2 separate regions of the Homo sapiens genome follow, and region 2 is linked to region 1. The links come from fine-mapping of genetic effects on gene expression. A gene starts in region 1. The other region holds a variant in brackets. All regions are shown on one strand. Distances are from middle to middle.

Region 1 (8,344 bases):
TTCTGAATACAAGTGTTCCGACTGCCCACAAATATAAAAACAAGACATCAGGCAGGCCTACCTAGAATTTAAGGTTGTTAACCCAATGGTCTTAAAATGCAGTCACCGGCTGGGCGTGGTGGCTCACGCCTGTAATCCTAGCACTTTGGGAGGCCGAGGCGGGTGGATCACGAGGTCAGGAGATCGAGACCATCCTGGCTAACATGGTGAAACCCCGTCTCTACTAAAAATACAGAAACAAAAAATTAGCCGGGCATGGTGGTGGGAGCCTGTAGTCCCAGCTACTCGGGAGGCTGAGGCGAAGGAATGGCGTGAACCCGGGAGGCGGAGCTTGCAGTGAGCTGAGATAGCGCCACTGCACTCCAGCATGGGCGACAGAGCAAGACTCCATCTCAAAAACAACAACAAAAAATGCAGTCACCTGCCCATCTAACCATAATCCAGAACAATCAGAAGATCCCTAAATCTGGATCCATAGGAGAGAACTCTGGGGAGTAAAGGACGCTATGAAAGATTTACAGAGCCCCTCAAAATTACAAAGCAGAGAACTTGGTACTCAACCCATAGAGCCTCTGCTGTACTAGGTAAGCTATTCTTACAAAAATAAGTCAGCAAGTCTTTTGAGTTCCTACTGTGTAGAGGTCACAAGATGTCCAGACGCAAAAAGCAATGAAATAGATACTATGTTAAAGGAGTTCACAATTTATCAAGAGAGCCAGCATATATTATCCTAAATGACCCTAAGTAACAAAGCACAATGCCTAGCATGTAGCTTATGAAATAGCACAGGTGCTTAGCAACTTTTTTGTGACATGATTACAAAGGTCAAAAGCAGTAAGCATCATTAAGTACAATACCATGTCATCAATGCAATTTCAGATTGAATAGCCTAAAGTTACTATCTAAGTCTATGTGGATAGTTTGTTTCAACTCCCTCAAGGCAGTCAATTTCCAAAGACATGGTACTGCATAGTCCCCATTAATCGGCTTGGAGTATACATATGGAATCCACATGTAATTTGGCACACACCAAAAAAAAGTGGAAAAAAGTACTTATATCATTTAAGACAATCATACCGAACATTCTAATGAAATATCAAAAACAAAATGAATTATGGATCAAAAAATATTATTTATGTATTATTTTTACTTTTTCTAGAGAGGGGGTTTCCCTCTGTCACCCAGGCTGGAGAGCAGTGGCAATATCATAGCTCACTGCAACCTCCAACTCCTGGGCTCAAGCAATGCTCCCACCTCAACCTCTGAATAGCGAGGACTAGAAGCATGTGCCACCACACCATTAATTCCAAAAATCAATGAATGTAATTTTCCTCTGTGATGAAACTGGCAAAATAATGGGGGAAACCTATACAAGTCCTGCGTATGTTATAGGTTGTTAAAAATAAAATTAACTTTTGGGCCAGGCCCGGTAGCTCACACCTGTAATCCCAGCACTTTGGGAAGCCGAGGTGTGCTGATCACCAGAGGTCAGGAGTTCGAGATCAGCCTGGCCAACATGGCAAAATCCCATCTTTACTAAAAATACAAAAATTAGCCAGGCATGGTGGTGCTTGCCTGTAATCCCAGCTACTTGGGAGGCTGAAGCAGGAGAATTAATTGAACCCGGGAGGCGGAGGTTGCAACGAGCCGAGATTGCGCCACCGCACTCTAGCCTGGGCAACAGAGCAAGACTCTGTCTCAAAAATAATAATAATAATAAAGTTTTTACTGCTACCAGTATGGTATCTTTTTTTTTTTTTCCAGCATTCCTTTAGCAGAAGATTCACAAGACCAGTAACATCTTTTAAGTGTACGACAAGAGGCAGAATATATTTAAAATCTAGTTGAATTTGTTGTCAACACACATCAATGTTTTCTAGAATATCCTAGAACATCCTAGTACAGAAGGTGAATGACAACATTCACAGCAACTGGATGCAGAAATCTCCCTGAATTAACATTACATATCTTAAGTAATTTACCCTGTATATTTTCATTGGTGGACTATATGCCATATGCCTTCATCCAAGCACAGTAAGGATCTAGTTCAAAACTGAACACAACTTGAAAATTTTAAAATTTCAAAACACATGCATTCCATACACAACATTTATACTTACAAAACTATTTGGACATACCATCATACAGCTTAACTTGCTCTATGACTAATTATTGCATTAGGTGAATCCAACATTTCGTAAACTTATCAATGGTAAAAATTTATTGTTCAAAACACTACGATGAAATGCATTAAAATAACACGACTGATGAACAGAAAGAGGGATAGAGGGGTAAATATATGATAAAACAAGTGGAATGCAATTTTTTTTTTGGAGGGGGTTTTGAGACAGTGCCTCCCTCTGTCACCTAGGCTAGAGTGCAGTAGCACGATCTCGGCTCACTGCTACCACCGCCTCCCTGCTACCACCGCCTCCCAGGTTCAAGCGATTCCCCTGCCTCAGCCTCCCGAATAGCTGGGATTACAGGCACCCGCCACCACGCCGGGTTAATTTTTTGTATTTTTAGTAGAGACGGGGTTTCACCATGTTGGCCAGGCTGGTCTCGAACTCCTGGCCTCAAGTGATCCTGCCGCCTCGGCCTCCCAAAGTGCTGGGATTACAGGCGTGAGCCGCTGTGCATGTCCGGAATGCAATGTTAACAGTAGGATCTAGGCGGTTGGGTGTATGACTGCTCCCCGTAAGTTTTATAATATTGACGGATAGTTCAAAATATTTTCCTAATAAATTGTTGGAAAAAATAATACTTGACACTTCTTTGGTCATTTACAATTTAAGCTTTTAAGGAGAGAAACACAGATTAAAGAAACTCCTCTGTGGCATCCCACACAGGCACTATAGTTGGGACAAACCTGGATTCAAATCCTACCTCAACCTTGCAACTAGCTGTGTGATCTAAGTAAATTACTTAAGCCCTCAACACCTAAATTTCCTCATCTGCAAATAGGTTCTAGGAGGAGTTACTATGAAGTTAAATTCTTCACATAAAGGTCTTAGCTCAGTGCCAGGCACACAGTAAGCACTCAAAACATCAGCTGTAGCATCATTACGAGATTACTAATTTTACGCTAAGCTGAAAGGGCATTCTTCATAAAGTAGTAATTTTTTGCCCTTTTGCTAATTGATCGTTTCTGAAACCATTCCCAAAAGGAAGACTCCTAAAAGGAAACTTACTTCTTATCATGCTAAGCGGGGAGGAAGTAAAAGAAAAGTGAGGGATATTGCTCAATCGATAGTACAGTATTGTTCGCCATCTGAAAAAAACCACTCAGAATTAAATAAGGAAAGTTTCCAGACAAACTTTAAAAGGTATTCAAACAACTCCTATGTAGAATTGGCTTCACCTCTGCAGGTTGATTGGGTACATCCCTGTTATGAGAAAACTTGTCGTATTCTTCCAAGTCCCTAATTGCGAGTAAGAGGCTAGGCTAGAACATGACATTCATAGTAGCCAAAATCTTTCTCCTAAATCAGGACATGCCAACGATCCCACTTCTTCACAGGTAAGACCACCACCCCGACTTTGGTCTAGATAACGGCTATGGGGGGAGGGGAAAGGAGGCAGGAAAATGAATTCGCGATGGTGTTACTGAAGAACCCTCCGGTTATTTCTCCTGAGACCCCTCCACGACTTATTCCCGCCACCACCACCCCCACCTGACCTCTCCCCAGTTAACTTCCAGACTCTGATGTACTAAAGATGCACTAAAGATGCACTTAAGAATCTGACACCTCCCCTCCCTGGGCCTAGATATCCCACCCCAGTGCTGGGGAACGTCGGGGGGAGGAAGGCAAACAACGGCCCCCTCCCCTCCCCCCCACCCAGCACCAAATCTTTGTCCCACCTGCCGAGGGACCGCTCGCCAGCGCGCTCCGGACCCAAGGCTGCCTCAGACCTGCCCGCAACCTTGTCCTAACTGGGCCTCGGCGACCCCTCCACGAACCTGAGTATGGCCCATTCCCGGCCCCGGGCCGCGCCCCGCCCCCCGCCGCCCGAGTTCTGCCTCACCTCACCTACCCTCTTTCGGGGGCCGGACTCCACCTCTCTCTCCGCCATGTTGGGCCCCGCTCGGAACCGCTGCGGCTCCCCGCGCGGTGGCGGCGGTACCTCTCGGCCCCCCGGCCCCCGCCCACACTGCAGGCACGGCCGCCTCGCGGCAGCTTCCCCGGACCCGGCCGGGCCTTGCGCCGAGAGTGGGGAGGGGGCGGATGCCGCGCGCCGGGCCGCAGCTTCTGAGATCCCACGGGTCCGCGCGTGGGCGGGAGGGCCTGCCCGGGGACGGGGTGGGGGCCGGGACTCGGGGGGTTAATGGCCTCCAAGGGGCCCCGTGAGTAGGATTATTTTCTCTCAGAGAAATTCCTCCGCCTGCGGTTTCTTAAAGGGATCACCAAATCAGCCCCTTGCGCGCGCCCCTGATGCGCAGGCGCACCCTAAGTCCCTCCTTCCTTTCCCACCAAGCCCCCGGTCCTGAGCGTGCGCGGTAAGTGGCCATGGGTAGGCCAAATCCTGCAAGTCTCTTTGCTGCCAGCAGCTGCTCCCACCACTCAACTATGGCCGCTCCCTTAAAGGGACCATGACGCAGGGATGAAGGAGAAATGAAAGAAATTACTGGAAAGACAATCTGGAGAATTGGGTGCAATGTCAGTGAAGGGTTCCACATCACCATCTTACACCTGACTACAGTGGTACCATTGAAGAGGGAAAGTCATGGTAAGCTGAAGTTCTCAGTGGACCTCTGAACATGAAGAATCCCAAACCAATGAGGGAACAAGACAGTCATCTCAAGGAAAACCAACTTTCCTCCCTTTCGACTGCCTGTTCTGAAGCACAAGGCATAGAATATCAAGAGCCAACTCCTATAACCTCACCTTAAAATCAAAGCTTTTGGTGATTTTGAAGATTGAACCAACAACTGGAAATAATTTCTTCAATAGTAATTTATCCTTAGAACATCAAAATGGAGAAGGATCTTAGGGAACCATTTACTCCAGTGCTCCCAATGATAAAATTGCAGCCTGATCATGGGAAGGAATTTGTCCCAATGTAACTAATGGCTGGTGTGGAGTTGGAATCAAGATTACAGTCTCAGTCCTCCAGGCTGTCTTCAGGCGAGAGATAAATTTGGTTTAATTTGATATCCCTAGAAGATTAAAAATTGAAGTTTCATGGTATTTGGAGAATATCATAATTCTCTTGTGAAGATGTAATGATTTGCAGATGATGGGTGTCCTCATTCACCTCTATTGAAGGAGCTTGACAATCTGCCTTAAAGGATAAGCATCTTATTTCTAAGCAGGAAACCAGGAAGTAGATTTGGGTCTATCTTGTTCCAAAACTGGGTCCTAAGCTGAAAATCGCTGAAAAGAATGAGGGCTTCATTCATTCCTCTTCTGTTCATTCTAGTTCCCACAAGCTTTGGGTGCAGAAAAAATTAAGTTTATAATGATAGTTCAGGGACAGTGGGGAGACATATAGTAAGAAATACAAAGAAGATGCCTCCTGAAGGTCATTTCCCATGACAAGACATATTCAAGTGGGAATGATAACTCCTGAAGTCACAGGATAATGAGATGTAACTTCTGTTTTCTGTTTTATTTAGCACTTGGTAGCTATTCTGAAACAGATGTTTTCTAATCTGTAATATTTTGCTGAAAACTTTTGGTGAAATTGCTGGAAGTTTCCATACTGGCCTTGCTTATGCCTTTAGCACTGTCTTTAATTTCACTCCTCGGTAGGAGAGAAGAAAGAAGGACAAAGAAATATGTTCATTTCAGCCAGAATTTTAAAAACATGTTCCCTTTAGTTCCATGTCCAGGACAAGAAAGAAAAGAGGAGCCAAGAAAAGATAATTCCAGGGAATGTGGCTACATAAAACTTGTAGTGGTTTCCACCTGTTTTATTGGCAGTGGAATACTCCCTTCTAATAAAATCTGGTGGTTTAAAATGTGGAGCTGCTAAGTTGGGAGTGTAAGTGGGGAACCCACTAGTCTATTCACCCAGCTTCACCCTTGCACTCTCTCTCCTTTCATGCCCCCTCCCATCATTACAGAAATGTTGAGTTTCTCAGATCACAGTTTAAACTTATTAGTTTAGTCTAACTCCACATTTTCAAGATGAAGCCTCTGAGGCTTAGAGAAGATATGATTTGCTTGAGATCACACACAGGATTAGTAACAGTATCAAGACTGAAACAGACATCTTGATCCTCAGGGCTCTGTCCTACACAGACTGTTTCTGGAGGTATTAGCAATGTGTTAGGTCTCGAATAATAGGTGGGATTTGTGCATTTCAGATAATATACAAGCATAACATGAATGTTCAGGGCAGTCATCCATATGGAGGAATAAGACAAGAGAAAACCATTTAGTGAGCACTGAAAAGTTAATCATAATTTTATAGAAGGATTCACAGAGCTTAAGTGACTAGTCCAAGATCATTCAGCACAGAGGCCAAGTCAGAATTCAAAGCCTTGTTCTTTCTGACTTATTTGAAATATCGTAAAGTAGACATTGTAAATTGGTGGCCTTGTGACCAAATCTGTCCCACAGAAATGCATTTGATTTGTATTGTGTATAGCTATATGATCTTGGTCAAGGTAATTGTCCTGTGCCTCACTTTCCTTATCTGTAAAATGGGACACCAAGAGGATTAAATTAGTTAACATCTCTAAATCTCCTAGAACACTGTTGGTTCCTAATACCATATGAGTATCATTATTATTATTATTATTATTTTTTGAGACAGAGTCTCACTCTGTCATCGAGCTAGAGTGCAGTGGCGCGATCTGGGCTCACTGCAAGCTCCGCCTCCCGGGTTCACACCATTCTTCTGCCTCAGCCTCCCGAGTAGCTGGAACTACAGGCACCCGCCACCATGCCCGGCTAACTTTTTGTATTTTTAGTACAGACTGGGTTTCACTGTGTTAGCCAGGAGGGTCTTGATCCCCTGACCTTGTGATCCGCCTGCCTCGGCCTCCCAAAGTGCTGGGATTACAGGCGTGAGCCACCGCGCCCGGCCATTATCTTTTTTTTAAAAAAAAAAAGTTAAATCATATATCAACATTTTAAATGGGATATTTCACCTACAAGTTCAGTGCTCTGACTTGTTTCAAAAAAAAAAAAAAAAAAAAACTAGACTATAATGGGGCTAGTATCTTGCAAATATCAAACAGATTTCTTTTAACTTTCTTAAGTCATCTTCTGTCATAGACTCTTGCTTGAAATGTAGCCTTGAGACTTATTTTCCCAATCAGGAGAGAACAGAATGGAGAGAAAAAGAATTTGCTAAATTTTCTTAGTTCCATTTAATCTATGAAGCTCAGCACATAATAATTTCATAGAGTTTTTACATACTCCACAGGAAATGCCTTCCACCCAAATATCCTTCCATCCAGGACAGCTAAGCCATGAGGCTGCATATAGGGAAATAAAAGAAAAGTCTGACTCTTTTAATAAAAGGGTAGAGAGAAGAAGAACAAAGAGAAAAGTAAGAGAGGCATCATTGAGAGACATGTGCTCCTGTCTTCCCATTCCAGCTCTTCAAGGCAGAGAGGATTCTTACTCTGCTCCTGTTTAAGATTCCAAGTAGAGATGACTTGCAGACTATGCCCATACCAACAAGCAGACAGCCACATATGAGCAAAAGTCATGCCCTGATGTAGTTGGGAAAAAAGAGCAGGTCTGCATTTAGCTCCTCAGAGTGTCTCTCAGCCAGAGATGAATCCAGGTTTTACAGATCTTGAAGCTTACATGATGGGGGGAGAGGGAGGGTTTTTTTGTTTGTTTGTTTTGTTTTGTTTTTAAGAAAAAGAACACAGAATTACATACACAAAATTAGGTACAGGGTTTTGGGCGGAGCTCTGCAAGTGAGTGGTCCTTAGCTCCTGCGAGAGAAGATATCCAGAAGTTCCCACATACCCTGTAGAAGAATACGGAAAGTAGCCAAGAATGCTGGCTGGCAAGTATAGGAGGAAGTAGCTCTGTAAATTACACTGGGCCAGGAACAAAAAGTAGTAACAGCCAGACCTCAGGAAGAGCTGTGTGGTTTGCCTTCAGGCTCTGAGCAAACTTAGCGAGGCCAGGCTACAAAACATTCCACTCTCTTAACAACAGGCTGTAGAGCATCCTGAGAGGTCAGGGACTCCGAATAGATTCAAGGTCTCAGGCTTCCCCAAAGTCATAATGCCTCATAAATGCAGACGTTATTTTAGATACTCACTCAGAGGGAGAGGGCAGCCACAGGAAAGATACAGTGTTTCTTTCCAAAAGAAATTATTAACTAACAGAATTCTAACCATTAGATTCAAATATGTTTTAAACTACATTGG
Region 2 (8,344 bases), 130 kb before region 1:
CTGGGGTGCAATGGCACAATCTCGGCTCACTGCAACCTCCGCCGGGTTCAAGTGATTCTCCTATCTCAGCCTCCTGAGTAGCTGGGAGTCAGCCGTGCACCACCATGCCCAGATAATTTTGTATTTTTAGTAGAGACGGGGTTTCTCCATGTTGGTCAGGCTGGTCTCAAACTCCCAACCTCTGGTGATCCGCCCGCCTCGGCCTCCCAAAGTGCTGGGATTACAAGTATAAGCCACTACACCCGACCAGCTGTTTAACTTTCTTCAGCTGATATTTATTTGAATACAGAACACCTCAAATAATGAATAACACCCTCTTGCCTTTGGAAATGCTAGAATACAGTATTCCCTTTGCTAGGTCACAGGCTGCAAAGGTTCAGGGGACTTGGGTGTATAGGACAAGGCAAGAAGGGCAGGTGGGAGCAGATCATGATCAGCCTCATTTCTCATATTAAGATTTTGCAGACAATGAGCTGAATTAATTTTGAGCAGGGGAGTTATCCAATTTGATTTGTAGAGGTCCTACTACAACATGTTGATCCACATTGTGGGGCCAAGATTAAAACACCCTTTCTAGTCATTGCTCTTCTGCACTGAGATAAGATTACATACACATGGGCTCCTGTGAGTTGGGTTTTAGTTAAAGCAAGCCGTATCTCATGAGAGCACCGACCATGTTTGACTTTTTCACCCTAGTACCTAGCTTCATACCTGGTATATAAGAGAGATATTCAGTAAGTATTTCTCAATGAAAGAGTGGTAGAAATGGGTTGCCATCCCTGTAACAGCTGCATTTAGGCTTAGTAGTCTAAAGCAGTATTACCTCTCCATTTGCACTATTACCCTTCCCCGGCTTTTTGTTTTATTTTTATTTTTTTAGAGACAGGGTCTCACTCTGATGCTCAGGCTGGAGTGCAGTGGTGCAATCATAGCTCACTGCAGCCTCAGAACTCTTGGGCTTAGGAGATCCTCCTGATTCAGCCTTCTACAGTGCTGGGATTACAAGTATGAGCCACTGCACCCAGCAGGTTGCTCTTTTAACTTAAAACATGCTACTAGGCAGTTAATGGCCTAGTAAATCTCCACAACAGGAGTGTATTTACATAGCTTTGGAGCAGACAGATTACATTTCATCTATAGGAACTCAATGAGTTAGTCACTGCCCACAGCAGCAACTAAGTGCTCCAATAAGGACAGTTACATGTGCCCCAAAACCAACAGGGTAGACTGGAGTGAAGCCAAGAGTGCATACAATCACCTAGGTTTAAGACAGAAAGAAGATATAGTTGGAAAGTGGAATAAAATCAAGTTACATGGATATACTCCTCCATTCTGCCCCATCTCATTCCATAAAGATTGTATAAGTATTTTACATAAAACACAAATTAAAAGCAAAAGATAAAGTGAAACAAAAATTTAGAATAGGGTGTCAAAAGTAGTGAAAAATGAAAACTAATGTGGGCCTTAAAATTATACACTGTTGCTTTATTTGAAATGCTCATGTAATACCAAATTTCCTGGCAGCTGAAGTGAAACCCACAAACATTGTCAGTTACATAGATCTCACTGTAAGGAAAAATTCCTACATTAGAAGCAAGGCTTTTCCAGGTATTTTTCTTAAAAAAAAAAACAAAAAAAAAACTGGGCTCCACATGGATTACTATACAGACGCAGGGCTCAAGAAGACATATTTTGAGGCACTTGCACAGTGTCAAAAATAAAACAAAATTCTGTATATTTGCATAATAAACTCAAGAGCAGAAGACATAACCTTACCCTTATAACAACCTCCTTAAAACGGGATAAGATTAATTTCTCTTTCTAACCTTAATACTCTAAATTTTAAATAATTTTAAATATTCAATTTACAAATTTAAATCCGCAATAATAATATAAATAATTCATACCAAATGGAGAGAAACAAATTTTACCTCTACAGCCTGGCTCTGAGGATTCTTGAGAGAGTGCATGGTCTTGAGTACTTCCTAAGGGGTCAGAACGTGGGCTAGATGAGGCCTGTTCAACCCCTGACAAGGAGAGAAACATAAAAGAAAAGTTTAAATAAAATAAAAGTGCGGAAAAAATTAAGTAAAGCCCAAACCAAAGTTTTATGGGGTTTTTGACCTAAAATGTATCCCTTTTCAGTAGATTATCTGTATATTTCCCCCTACCTAAATCAAGATACAATTCATGCTGTGCACTTACCTCCACATTTTAGATCCCCCTGCTCTTCCTTGGCATTTTTCCACTGAACCCAGTTCTTCCAAGCATTTACCCCATACATGTATTTCAGTGTCATCCCGGACACTGAGCAGCCTTGAAAGGCTCCTTGAATAAGACTCCTGGGCTCCACAGCCACTATAGACTTCTTCCGTCCCTGTAAGAATTCCAAAAATTTACAGAACATAAAATTTAGTTTTGGATTTTTAAGAGTCAGGGTTCTCAAAGCTGGAAAGGGTATACATTTGTAGAATAAAGAATTTAGTTTTATATCCTAAAGATTCAGAGTTCTTAGAGCAAGAAAGGGCTTTAGAGATTATTTAATCCAATCCATATGAGGAAGGAAGAAAGAAAAAGTTTAAATGCAGAAGAGCACACTGTAATAATCACTAACATTTGGGTATTTACTATGTTCCAGATATAGACTCACCTGATGAGGTATGAATAACTACTATTACCACTCAGGTCTATTTAATGAAACATGTAAACAGATCATATTCTGTGCTATAAAACAAGCCTCAACAAATTATCTAACTACAATGAAATTAAAATAGAAACCAATGATGCATAGATGTCCAAAAAAATCCTCCAAAATCATAAATTAAACAGCTCTATGGGTCAAAGAAGAAAGGACACATGCAATCACAAAACATTTTGAACTTAAAGGAAAATGAAAATAAAATTTACCAAAATTTCTGTGATGGAACTAAAGCAGTACTTAAAGGGACATTTGTAGTATTAAAATGTTTCAATAAGAAAATTTTTAAAAAGTCTATAATCTATAACCTAAGCTTCTATATTAAGAAACTAGAAAAGGAAGGCCAAGTGCAATGGCCCATACCTGTAATGCCAGCACTCTGGGAGGCCTAAGTGGGCAGACTGAGCCCAGGAGTTCGAAATAAGCCTGGGCAACATGGCAAGACCCCGTCTCTACAAAAAATTAAAAAATTAGCCAGGCATGGTGGCATACATCTGTAGTCCCAGCTACTTGGGAGACTGAGGTTTAAGGATCACCTGAGCCCAGGAGGTTGAGGTTGCAGCGAGCCATGATTACGCCACTGCACTCCAGCCTGGGTGACTGAGTGGAGACCCTGTCTAAAAACAAACAAGCAAAAAACCAGAAAAGGAAATCCAAATTAAAACCCAGGCTGGGTGCAGTGGCTCATGCCTGTAATCCCAACACTTTGGGAGGCTGAGGCAGGTGGATCACTTGTGACTCTCATGCCAATAAATTAAACAACTTAGATGAAATGGACAAACTTCTTGAAAGATTAATTAAGCTTACTCTAGAAGAAACAGATAACCTAAATAGCCATAGAAACAGCATTTATAGCTTAAAACCCTCCCACAAAAACTCTATTCCCAGATGGATTAAATTCCATCATAGTTAAATTCTATCATAGTTAAAGAAATTATACAAATTCTATCATAGTTAAAGAAATTATACAAATTCTATCATAGTTAAAGAAATTATACAAATAGAAGAAAAAGAAATATTAACTAATTTTATAATGTCACCATTACCCTGATACCAAAACCAGTCACAAAGTACAGATAAATATGTCTTGAACAGGGACACTCAAAACCTTCATAGGGCCAGCCATGGCAGCTCACACCTGTAATCCCAGCACTTTGGGAGGGCGAGGTGGGTGGATCACTTGAGGCCAGGAGTTCAAGACCAGCCTGGCCAACATGGTGACACCCCATCTCTACTAAAAATACAAAAATTACCCAGGCATGGTGGTGGGCACCTGTAATCCCAGCTACTTGGAAGGCTGAGGCAGGAGAACTGCTTGAACCTGGAAGGTGGAGGTTACAGTGAGCCGAGATCGCGCCATTGCACTCGAGCCTGGGCAACAGAGTGAGACTCTGTCTCAAAACAGAACAACAACAAAAAACCTTCGCAGAATATTAGCAAACCAAATCCAGCAACACAAAAAAATAATAAATACAGAAAAAAGTAGGGTTTATCCCAGGAATGGAAGGTTAATCATTTGAAAAAATTAATGTATTTCACCATTTTAACAGACTTAAAAAAAGGAAAACCAGATAATCACCTCAAAAGATGCAAGAAATCCACCTGAGGAAGTTCAATACCCAATCATGATTTAAAAAACTTTCAGCAAATTAAAAGGAGAAGGGGAACTTCTTCAACCTGATAGAAACCACCTATGAGAAACCTACAGGTAACATCATACTTTCTGTTGCAAGACTTTTTTCACCGTAAGGTTAGGAATAAGGCAAAAAGGTCTGCTCTCACTACTAATATTCAACATTGTACTGAAGATACTAGCTAGTTCAATAAAACAAGAAAAAGAAGGAAAGAAAATGCATTCAGATTACAAAG[T/GAAAAAGT]AAAACTGTCTTTATTCACAGATAATATGATTGTCTAGGTAGAAAATCCTAAGGATTTTAGTTGAGCAAAGTCACAGGACACAAAGTAAATACATGAAAATTACCTATATTTCTTTTTTTTATTTCTAAGATAAATATCATAGAAGAAAAAATTATCTATATTTCTATATACTAGTAAGGAACACGAAAAATGAAATTGTTTTTCTTTTTTTTTGAGACAGGGTCTCGCTCTGTCGCCCAGACTAGAGTGCAGTGGCATGATCAGGGCTTACTGCAGCCTCGACCCCCCCTAGGCTCAAGCAATTCTCCCAGCTCAGCCCTCCAAGTAGCTGGGACCACCAGCATGCGTCACCATGCCCAGCTAATTTTTAAAATTTTTAGTAGAGATGGGGTCTCACTACATTGCCCAGGCTGGTCTCAAACTCCTGGGCTCAAACAATCCTTCTGCCTTAGCCTCCCAAAGTACTAGGATTATAGGTGTGAGTCATTGTGCTCAGTGAAAAATGAAATTTAAAAATAATACAATTTACAACAGCATCAAAATATCTTAAATACTTATGAAATAAACTTAACAGAATATAATGAGACTTGTAATGCAGACTATTCCATGTTTCCAAATTAGAAGACTCAACATTCCTAAAATGTCAATTCTCTCCCTCTGGATTCAGGACAGCCCCAACTGAAATTCTAGCAGCCTTTTTTTTTTTTTTTTTTTTAAAGAAATTGACAAGTTGATTCCAAAATGTATATAGACATGCAAATGACAAGTTTAAGAAGAACAAAGCTGGAAGATTTACACTCTTAATTTCCAGGCTCACTGTAAAATCACAGTAATCAGGACAGTTGGTACTGGTATAAAAATAGACATATAAGTCAATAGAACAGAATAGAAAGTTTCAGAAACAGACTGATAGATACATATATGATTGACTTTTAACAGAGTTGCCAATGTAATTCAATGGGGAATGAATAGTCTTTTTCAAGGGCAGTGCTGGAACAACTGGATGTCCATATTCAAAAAATGAACCTTGACCCTTGTCTCAACTCATATATAAAAATTACCTCAAAATAGATCACAAACATAAAAGTTAAAACTATAAAACTTCTAGAAGAAAATGTAAGAGAATGTCTTAGTTACTATGAGTTAGGCAAAAATTTTTAGATGAGGTATTAAAAAGCACAATCCATAAAATAACAAATTGATAAAAGGGACTTCCTCAAAATCAAAATCTGCTACTCATCATTAAGAAAATAAAAAGGAAGTAACAAAATAGGACCAAACGTTGATTTGATAAAGAAATTATGTCCACAGTAAAGAATACTTACAACTCAGCAAGATAACAACCAACCCAACAAAAAAATGAAAAAAATGTGCGAAAACTGTGAATAAACACTTTACCAAAGAAGACACATGAATGGCAAATACATATATGAAAAGATGCTTAACATCATTAATCATTAGGGAAAAACAAATTAAAACCATAATGAGGTACCACTATACATTGACTAGAATGGCTAAAATTAAAAATCAACAATACCAAGTGTTAGCAAAGTCATGGAGCAGATGGAACTCTCTCATACATTGCTGGTGGGACTGCAAAATGGTACATCTCCTTTGGAAAACAGTCTGGCAGCTTTCTTACAAAGTTAAAAATACACATAAGCATAAAACCTAGCAATCTCATTCCTAGATCTTTTTCCTCAAGAGAAATGAAAACATATGTTCACACAAAGATTGATACTAAGATGTTCATAACATTTTGAGTAAGTTTTATTCAAAATAGCCCCAATCTGGAAACAACCCAAATTTTTATCACCTGTTAAACAGCTGAACAAATTGTAGTTTGTCCATGTAATGAAATACTACTCAGAAATAAAAAGGAATCAACTACTGGGACATGAAATAACATGGATGAATCTCAAAAACATTATGCCAAGTAAAAGAACTTAAACACAGAAGACTACATATTATAGGATTCCATTCATGTGAAATTTCAGAAAAGGCAAAGCAGTGGCATTCTGCATCAATCGGTACAGTAGATCAGTGGTTGTCAGCAGCCAGAGGGGCTGACTGCAAAAGGTCATAGTGGAACTTCTTGCTAAGTGGAATTGTTCATGATTGTGGTGGGAATTACATAACATATACATTAGTTGAAGGCCATCAAAATGTACACTCAGAACTTAAAAATGTTTTAATATAATTATACAATAGGGCTAATTTTAAAAATAAAGCTATTATTCTTTCAACTTTGTATAGGAAAGCCCTGTCAATGTGAAAAACAGCCATGTGAACTTCACTATTTTACTATACTATAAAAATAGGGAACTGGCCGGGCGCGGTGGCTCACGCCTGTAATCCCAGCACTTTGGGAGGCCAAGGCGGGTGGATCACGAGGTCAGGAGATCGAGACCATCCTGGCTAACATGGTGAAACCCTGTCTCTACTAAAAAATACCAATAAAAATTAGCCAGGCGTGGTGGCGGGCACCTGTAGTCCCAGCTACTTGGGAGGCTGAGGCAGGAGAATGGCCTGAACCCAGGAGGTGGAGCTTGCAGTGAGCCGAGATCACGCCACTGCACTCCAGCCTGGGTGACAGAGCGAAACTCCGTCTCAAAAAAAAAAAAAAAAAAAATAGTGAACTACTCAGTATTTTTTATTTTTATTTATTATTACTTTTTTTTTTTTTTTTTTGAGACAGTCTTGCTCTGTAACCCAGGCTGGAGTGTAGTGGCCTGATCTCAGCTCACTGCAAGCTCCACCTCCTGGGTTCAGGCCATTCTCCTGCCTCAGCCTCCCGAGTAGCTGGGACTACAGGCGCCCACCACCACACCTGGCTAATTTTGTTGTATTTTTAGTAGAGACGGGGTTTCACCATGTTAGCCAGGATGGTCTCGATCTCCTGACCTTGTGATCCGCCTGCCTTGGCCTCCCAAAGTACTCAGTATTATAACATGTAAAAAGAGCTAAATTTAGAGGCTGTTCAAACAGATAAAGCATAAAAAATAACTATAAAAAGTTTTTTAAAGTAAACAAAGCAATATAAAAGAAAACCCTTAACTATAGAAACAAAAAAAGTTCCTACTGAAAGAAATGTAAATAAAATATATGGTTCTTGAATTCAAAAAACAAAAGTTGCAAAACAACATGTGGAACTACCTGACTCTGGCTGTTACAGAGTTTTGAAAGCAGCAGGAACTAAATAATGCTTGTAGAATGAAGGAAAGAAAAGTCTAGAAAAGTTAAGCTGCAGCTTACTCTTCGTCTGGGTTGGGGGAAGCCATCTCTGTGTCGTCGTCTTGTTCGGGAACGTGCCTGGATTCCCTGTCCTTTATTAAGTGGGTCAAAGGAGTCTATAATAATCAGCAGAAAGGACAACATGAGGTAAATAACTCACAAATTTAAATAAAGACTTAGACTAGTAAAGAAATATCAGGTAATCATCACTATATTCATTAGTTTGTTTGTGATAAAATAAGGATTCCACTTATAGACTTAAACCAAGGATATAGTGCATAAATGAAAACTTCATTAACAATCAGGAAAACCTCTTATATAGCTACTACGGGAAAGGTTAAAAAAAATTTTAACCACATTAACCACTTATAAGAACAATATGGTACGAATTAACACCTACAAAGCCAGGGTCTATTTGTGCTCTAGATTATGACCTCTAACACATTACACTGTTATTATCAATAACAATTGGCACTGCTTAATAGTGTCAATTCAGAGTTGTACCGATCTTTTAAAATAAAAAGCTTTCAGTGGACAGGTTA

What was found. PIP is the estimated chance that this variant, and not a neighbour inherited with it, causes the effect.
Region 2: its variant is the best candidate, but not a certain one, in a credible set for the expression of ZMYM4 in whole blood (INTERVAL, PIP 0.87).

What each region holds. Positions count from the first base shown.
Region 1 is chr1:35,264,777-35,273,120 of GRCh38, reverse strand. ZMYM4 (zinc finger MYM-type containing 4) reads right to left here and starts at 4,412. Exons shown (of 30, transcript NM_005095.3): 1 at 4,036-4,412. The coding sequence starts at 4,074. RefSeq lists enhancers at 1-313, 4,583-4,642, 4,663-4,722 and silencers at 3,893-4,022, 4,093-4,452.
Region 2 is chr1:35,399,056-35,407,399 of GRCh38, reverse strand. ZMYM4 (zinc finger MYM-type containing 4) reads right to left here. Exons shown (of 30, transcript NM_005095.3): 23 at 7,824-7,918; 24 at 2,206-2,377; 25 at 1,932-2,027. Among named protein-coding and RNA genes, the nearest start is that of ZMYM4-AS1, 37 kb to the right of the region's middle. The variant T/GAAAAAGT (reference allele first, on the strand shown) is at 4,568.